Homo sapiens: one gene and its partner. The protein of the gene in region 2 purifies or fractionates together with the protein of the main gene of each other region. This does not show direct contact. Each region holds a gene or a part of one and is shown on either strand. Other genes may lie near its edges. The genes, in order: LRRC46 and GTPBP6.

The links.
Region 1: the proteins of GTPBP6 (region 2) and LRRC46 purify together in Homo sapiens (co-immunoprecipitation; one large-scale study listed by IntAct). This does not show direct contact.

The regions. Positions count from the first base shown.
Region 1 is NC_000017.11:47,834,670-47,838,219, reverse strand, and holds the end of LRRC46 (leucine-rich repeat-containing protein 46), read right to left. Parts: intron 2,868-3,550; coding exon 2,821-2,867; intron 2,555-2,820; coding exon 2,445-2,554; intron 2,188-2,444; coding exon 2,118-2,187; intron 1,888-2,117; coding exon 1,745-1,887; intron 1,471-1,744; coding exon 1,100-1,470; 3' UTR 501-1,099; downstream 1-500. Other genes in the region: SCRN2 (secernin-2), read left to right, coding at 218-376. UniProt on the Homo sapiens protein: Required for normal spermatogenesis and male fertility. Plays an important role in sperm flagellum biogenesis.
Region 2 is NC_000023.11:306,333-309,114, forward strand, and holds part of GTPBP6 (putative GTP-binding protein 6), read right to left. Parts: intron 1,549-2,782; coding exon 1,400-1,548; intron 1,181-1,399; coding exon 1,028-1,180; intron 1-1,027.

The DNA of each region.
Region 1 (3,550 bases), on a different chromosome or scaffold from region 2:
ACTCCCAGTGGGACTCTGGAAATATGAAGGAACTAGGGAGTGGAAGAGATTTCAGAGCTGGGGAGAGGAGTTCCTCCCTTCAAAGCCAGCAACTGCCTTTGGGGAATGTCGGGGGGTATCTCCTTTCTCCTGCTTGTGTGAGGTGGTACACAGTCCCCCCTTCACCTGGCGGGAAGCCTGTCCCGGACAGACTCATCTCAGCTTTCCCTTGGGGCAGGATCGGGGGCAGCAGCTCCAGCAGAAACAGCAGGATCTGGAGCAGGAAGGCCTCGAGGCCACACAGGGGCTGCTGGCCGGCGAGTGGGCCCCACCCCTCTGGGAGCTGGGCAGCCTCTTCCAGGCCTTCGTGAAGAGGGAGAGCCAGGCTTATGCGTAAGCTTCATAGCTTCTGCTGGCCTGGGGTGGACCCAGGACCCCTGGGGCCTGGGTGCCCTGAGTGGTGGTAAAGTGGAGCAATCCCTTCACGCTCCTTGGCCATGTTCTGAGCGGCCAGCTTGGCCTTTGCCTTAATAAATGTGCTTTATTTTCTCTTCAGTGAACTTTATCCCAGGACCAGTGGGGGTGGGAGAGCCAAGTGAGGCCCAAAGGCAGCTGTGGGCTGGCTGCGGGGCCTGTGGTTGTGTACTCATTCCTATGAGTGGGTGAGTGATGGGGACTGGGCAGGAGGACAGGGAGGGGACAGGAGCTGGCTGCTGTTGGGGATGACTAGGACCACAGCTCCTTGGTCCTTGGCTTGGACCGGGGAAGGGCACTCGCTAGGGGTGGCAGTGAGATGGCATGCCTCTTCCATGAGGTGGTGCCCGCTTCCTGCCCAAGTGGGAGCCAGGAAGCCAGCGGGGGCCTGAGGCATGCCTGCCCTGTGGGTAGCTCCCGAAAGATTCCAGACTCGCTCTTTAGAATCAGGTGGCTCACTGAGCTCTGTATTTTGTTTCCTGGAGCTTTCACTGGTTTCTTCCCCTGAGATACCCCAAGTGACATGAAAAGCATACTCAGGGCCTAGAGACACTTTACTGGGGATGGGCTTCTGTCACAGGTCAGAGGTCTGAGAAGAGGGGCAGGCCCCACTCCTCTCCACTAGTAGAGAAAGGTTGACAGAGAATCATTTCTTGCTTCTCTTGGCCGTAGTTTTGGTTGTGCTGGGGGCCTCAGCCACAGAGGCCTTGGGGGCTGTGGCTGCTCGTGCCCCCTTCCTTCCCCAGAAAGAGCTTTGGTGGCCCCTGGGAATCAGACTGCATGGTTTCTTGGTGGGAGAGGAGGCCTGGGGTGAGGAGACGGCCTCAGGGACTGTCTCCTCCCCTTGCGCAGGAGTGGCAGAAGGGCTGCTGTCCCCAGCCATGGGCACCCCAGGTAGCAGGGGCAGGTCGGTGAGGGTGGGCTGCATCTCCATCCTCAGCAGGTGCTCTGTCAGGGCCGTCTGTTGCCGGTGCTCCCTGTGCCTGCTCAGCTCCTGCTCCAGCTCCTTGAGGAAGCCTGGGAGGGGCCGGGGGTGGAGGGTACAGGGTGGGTGGAGCCCTGGGCTCAGCAGGAGGGTCCCTGGGCTCAGGGAAGTCTCTGGCTGGCCCCTTGTCCCTTGTGGGAAGGAGCCTGAGGCTGGGGCCCAGGACTGACACCTGGCTCTGGCCCAGATGTTGATCTGAACTTGGGGCTCCCCTCCCCGGACGCCACTGCCACCTTAGCTTCCCTCATGTCCCACAGGGCAGAGGTGGGCTCTGGGGAGGCTGAAAACCTTGGAAAGCAGGGTCACCTCGTTCTGAGCAGAATGGGCCACTCAGCTCTGGGAACTCCTCATCGCTTGAGGCTTCATCCTCCTCATCCGAAATCCAGCGCTCCACCACAGGCTGCCCGTCCAGGTCCAGGAGAAGTGGCAGGGCTTCTGTCACCAGCTCGCTGCAGAGCAGAAGGAGCAGAGGTTACCCAGGAGGGCACCCTGGCGTGGAGGATGCAAAGACACGCACCACAGCACTCACACCCGGAGGGGTGGTGGCTCATGAGCTAGGTAGGAGGTGGGGGAGAAGGTGTCATGGACAGGACCCCAGGTTTGCAGGCTGAGAGGGGTCTGGGCTGAGTTAGCAGGTAGAGCTCAGCCATGACCTTTCTTCCCACCCTCCACTCCTTACCGGTAGCCATCCTGGTTGGTGCAGCTGTTTCCAGACAGGTTGAGGATGAGAAGGCTCTGGGGGAACTCATCTGCACACAGCAAAGAGAGAGGAAATGGGGTTCTCACTTGATCTTAGCCAAAAGACCATGAAGCGATGGGAATGGGGTTCTCATACCCACTTTCTAGTCCAAAGCCAGTACCTCTAGGCACAACCCCTTGAACTCCCTGAGGATGAAATGTGGACCTGCAGGGGCATGGCTAATAGAAGCATGGGCAGATGGGTGCAGAGGGGAGGGCAGGCCCCACAGGGGATGTGTTTGGTGAGCCAGGGCGAGTGGGTTCCTACCCAGCTTCAATGTTTCTATCAGGTTCTCAGAAAGGTCCAGAAACTGGAGGCATGGGAGGTCGAGGAGGTTTTCCACCTGCCTGATTTGGTTTCCTGCCAGAGACAGGAAGCTGTAGGGGAAGGAAGGGGTACAGAGGCAGAGCTGAATCATGGAACAGCTGGAAGAAAAGAGGAGGGCACCTGACACCGGGGCCCCTGGGCTAGGCAGCTGATGACCAGTGGGGACACATGGCCTTCTGGGGTGAGGGAGTAGATCTAGGCTTGCTGGTCCTTGACTGACAAGGACCCAGGCTTGGAGAAATCTGAACCAGTTCTTTGGGATATGGCTAGGTTCCCCCAACCCCTCTTCCCCTGCCTGAGCCCTGGCACCACATACCGCAAGGAGGGGATGCAAGCCAGGTTCTCAATTTGCTGGATCTTATTCTGCAAGAAGAAACCGAAGTGGGGAAACCAAGCTGAGATCAGATGCGTCAGGGGCCCTTTACGGGGACAAAGCCCCAAGACCATGTCTACTCTGCAGCTGGAGATCTGGCACTTTGGGAATGATCACCCCACTCCTTGAACAGGTTGCCACTACCTTAAGAAAGATGATTTTCTTTCCCCATGTGGATGGTTAAGGGTGTAAACCTGGGGTATCTAAACCTGACTACGTATACTCTTCTGATTCCACAACCAAAGAGTGACCTGGGAATCAGAAAAGGAAACTAAGAAGCCACCAGGAAAACGGAAAGGGCCTTGGTGGTGGCTTGCATACACAGAGAGAACAATGAGCATACAGGAACTTGACGGTTAAAGTTTCTATGGGGAAAGTTGAAGCGAGCTGGGAATACTCAACCAGGGGAAGGCTGAAGATCAACCAACCACCACCACCACCACCAAACAGCCTTCAAGTAGGATCTGAATGATGTACAGGAATCTTCATAGTTTCCTCTTCTTCAAAACAGGAAATGGGCTGGAGCTATTTAACGTGAAAGATTTAGAGTAGATGCCAAAAAGAACTTCTAGATCAAGAGAAGTGCCTAAAGAACAGTGGAAGGAGCACAGGTCATGTTCAGGATCTATTTTGAGGGAATTAGTTTTTCAATTCAGGACCCTATGTCATTCGT
Region 2 (2,782 bases):
GATTAGGCACCTGTTGTATGCACAGAAATGTACATTTTGGCTGTCAAGCACAGATTAGGCACCTGTTGTATGGTCAGAAATGTACATTTTCACTGTCAGCATAATTAGGCACCTGTTGTATCCACAGTCAGAAATGTACATTGAGTGTCAGCACACATTAGGCACCTGTTGTATGCACAGTCAGAAATGTACATTTTGTCAGCACAGATTAGGCAACTGTTGTATGCAGTCAGAAATGTATTTTTACTGTCAAGCACAGATTAGGCACCTGTTGTATGCAGTCAGAAATGTACATTTTGACTGTCAGCACAGATTAGGCACCTGTTGTATGCAGTCAGAAATGTACATTTTGACTGTCAGTGCAGATTAGGCACCTGTTGTATGCACAGAAATGTACATTTTGGCTGTCAAGCACAGATTAGGCACCTGTTGTATGGTCAGAAATGTACATTTTCACTGTCAGCATAATTAGGCACCTGTTGTATCCACAGTCAGAAATGTATATTTTGAGTGTCAGCACAGATTAGGCACCTGTTGTATGCAGTCAGAAATGTACATTTTGACTGTCAGCACAGATTAGGCACCTGTTGTATGCAGTCAGAAATGTACATTTTGACTGTCAGCACAGATTAGGCACCTGTTGTATGCAGTCAGAAATGTACATTTTGACTGTCAAGCACAGATTAGGCAACTGTTGTATGCAGTCAGAAATGTATTTTTACTGTCAAGCACAGATTAGGCACCCGTTGTATGCAGTCAGAAATGTACATTTTGACTGTCAGCACAGATTAGGCACCTGTTGTATGCACAGTCACAAATGTAGATTTTGACTCTCAAGCGCAGATTAGGCACCTCTTGTATGCACAGTCACAAATGTACATTTGATGCAAACCCATTCATCTCGTCTGTACATCCTAAAGCTCTCGGGGATCTCACAGCTCCTTGTGCACCCACGAAGAGCCCGTTTCAGAGCCAGAGACAGGCATCCAAAGCACCATCCCGTCTCCTGCCCCTGCAGGCCGCTCACCTGAGCTGCGCCCCTGCGAGCCTCACACGGAGAGTGAGGATCTGTCTCCCCGTCGCCTTCAAAACCGCCGCATCGAGCTCAGCTTTCAGCTCCTGGAGCCCGTGGCCCCGCAGGGCAGACACGGGCACGACGTTCGGTTCCGTGGGGCTGTACCTGCAAGGGTGGGGATGTCACAGGCCCCGCTCAGCGTCGGGGCGGCCGGACGAAATCAGGGTCCCCAGGAGTCCACTGCCCACGGGGCACAGTCTGGGGCCACTCCCTGTGTCCTGACTGCCACCGCTGCGGTTCACACGAGGAGACGGGGCATCTCCCCACCCGGCTCCAGCGCGTGCAGGGGAAGGAGACGCTTGCGGACCCCAGGGCCGGACTCACCCGGGCACGAGGTCCACCTTGTTGTGAACCTCCACCATGGAGTCCAGGAGCGGGGCGGGCAGCTGCAGGCCACGCAGCGTGGACAGAACGCTGCATTTCTGGAGCTCCGCCTCGGGGTGGCTGACGTCCCTCACGTGCAAGATGAGATCCTGTGGGCCGGGCCGTGGGGTCAGAGCTGCGGAGCCTCTGGTCCCTGACCCCAAGCTTGCAGACAGGCCCAGGAGAGGGGCTCACACGAGCTCCCAACGACAGGCTGGGCATGGGAGGTACGCCTGTGTGCAGGCCCCTCGGACACCCCAGGACGGGGGCTCCTAGACCAACAGTGGACGCGAGCCCACCCGGCTGCACTTACCCAACCTTCCAAGCCACAGGCAGCAGCTCCGCACCCCCAGACCCACACGCAAGGGGGTGCCATATATGAGCACCCAACCACCACCCACCCACCCAGGGGGTCTTCATTCAAAGCTTTAGGGCGGCTTCATCCTCCTGTGAAATGTCTTTTAACAGCGGAATTATTTCCTCTTTAAAGGATGCTTTTTTTCTCACGTTCAAAAAAAATCTTACAGGCAGGCTCCTTACACAAAATTTGAAAAACACAGGGAAAAAAAAATAAAGCCGTGTGTAATTCTCCAACTTATACTACCGGGGTATCCACGTCTACTTTTTGTTTGTTTGGATGCACTTAATACAAATAATATTTTTCCTGTAACTGAGGCACTTTGGGAGGTGGCTTGAGCCCAGAAGTTTGAGACCAGCCTGGGCAAGAGAGTGAGGCCGTTTCTACAGAAAGTACAAAAATTAGCCATGGCCTGGTTGTGCGTGTCTGTGGTCTCAGCTACTCAGGAGGCTGAGGTGGGAGGATCACTTGAGCCCAGGAGGTCGAGGCTGCAGTGAGCCGAGATCATACCACTGCGGTTCAGTCTGGGTGACAGAGCGAGACCCTGTCTCTAAAGAAGAAAAGTAAAAACAAAAAAAATAATTTCATCCCAGGAAAGTTTTACTTTTTTTTTTTTTTTTTTTTTGAGACGAGTCTCGCTCTGTCACACAGGCTGGAGTGCAGTGGCGCGATCTCAGCTCACTGCAAGCTCCGCCTCCCGGGTTCAGCCATTCTCCTGCCTCAGCCTCTCTTGAGTAGCTGGGACTACAGGCACCCGCCACCATGCCTGGCTAATTTTTTATATTTTTAGTAGAGACGGGATTTCGCCGTGGTCTCGATCTCCTGACCTGAAGTGATCCACCCGCCTCAACCTCCCAAAGTGCTGGGATTGCAGGCGTGAGCCACCACACCCGGTCCATAATTTATTGTCGGGAGGAGTCGAAAGCGGAGTCCAGGCTCCGGGCGGGGTTCAGTCCCATCTCCTCAAGGAGGTGGCAGCCGCGTCC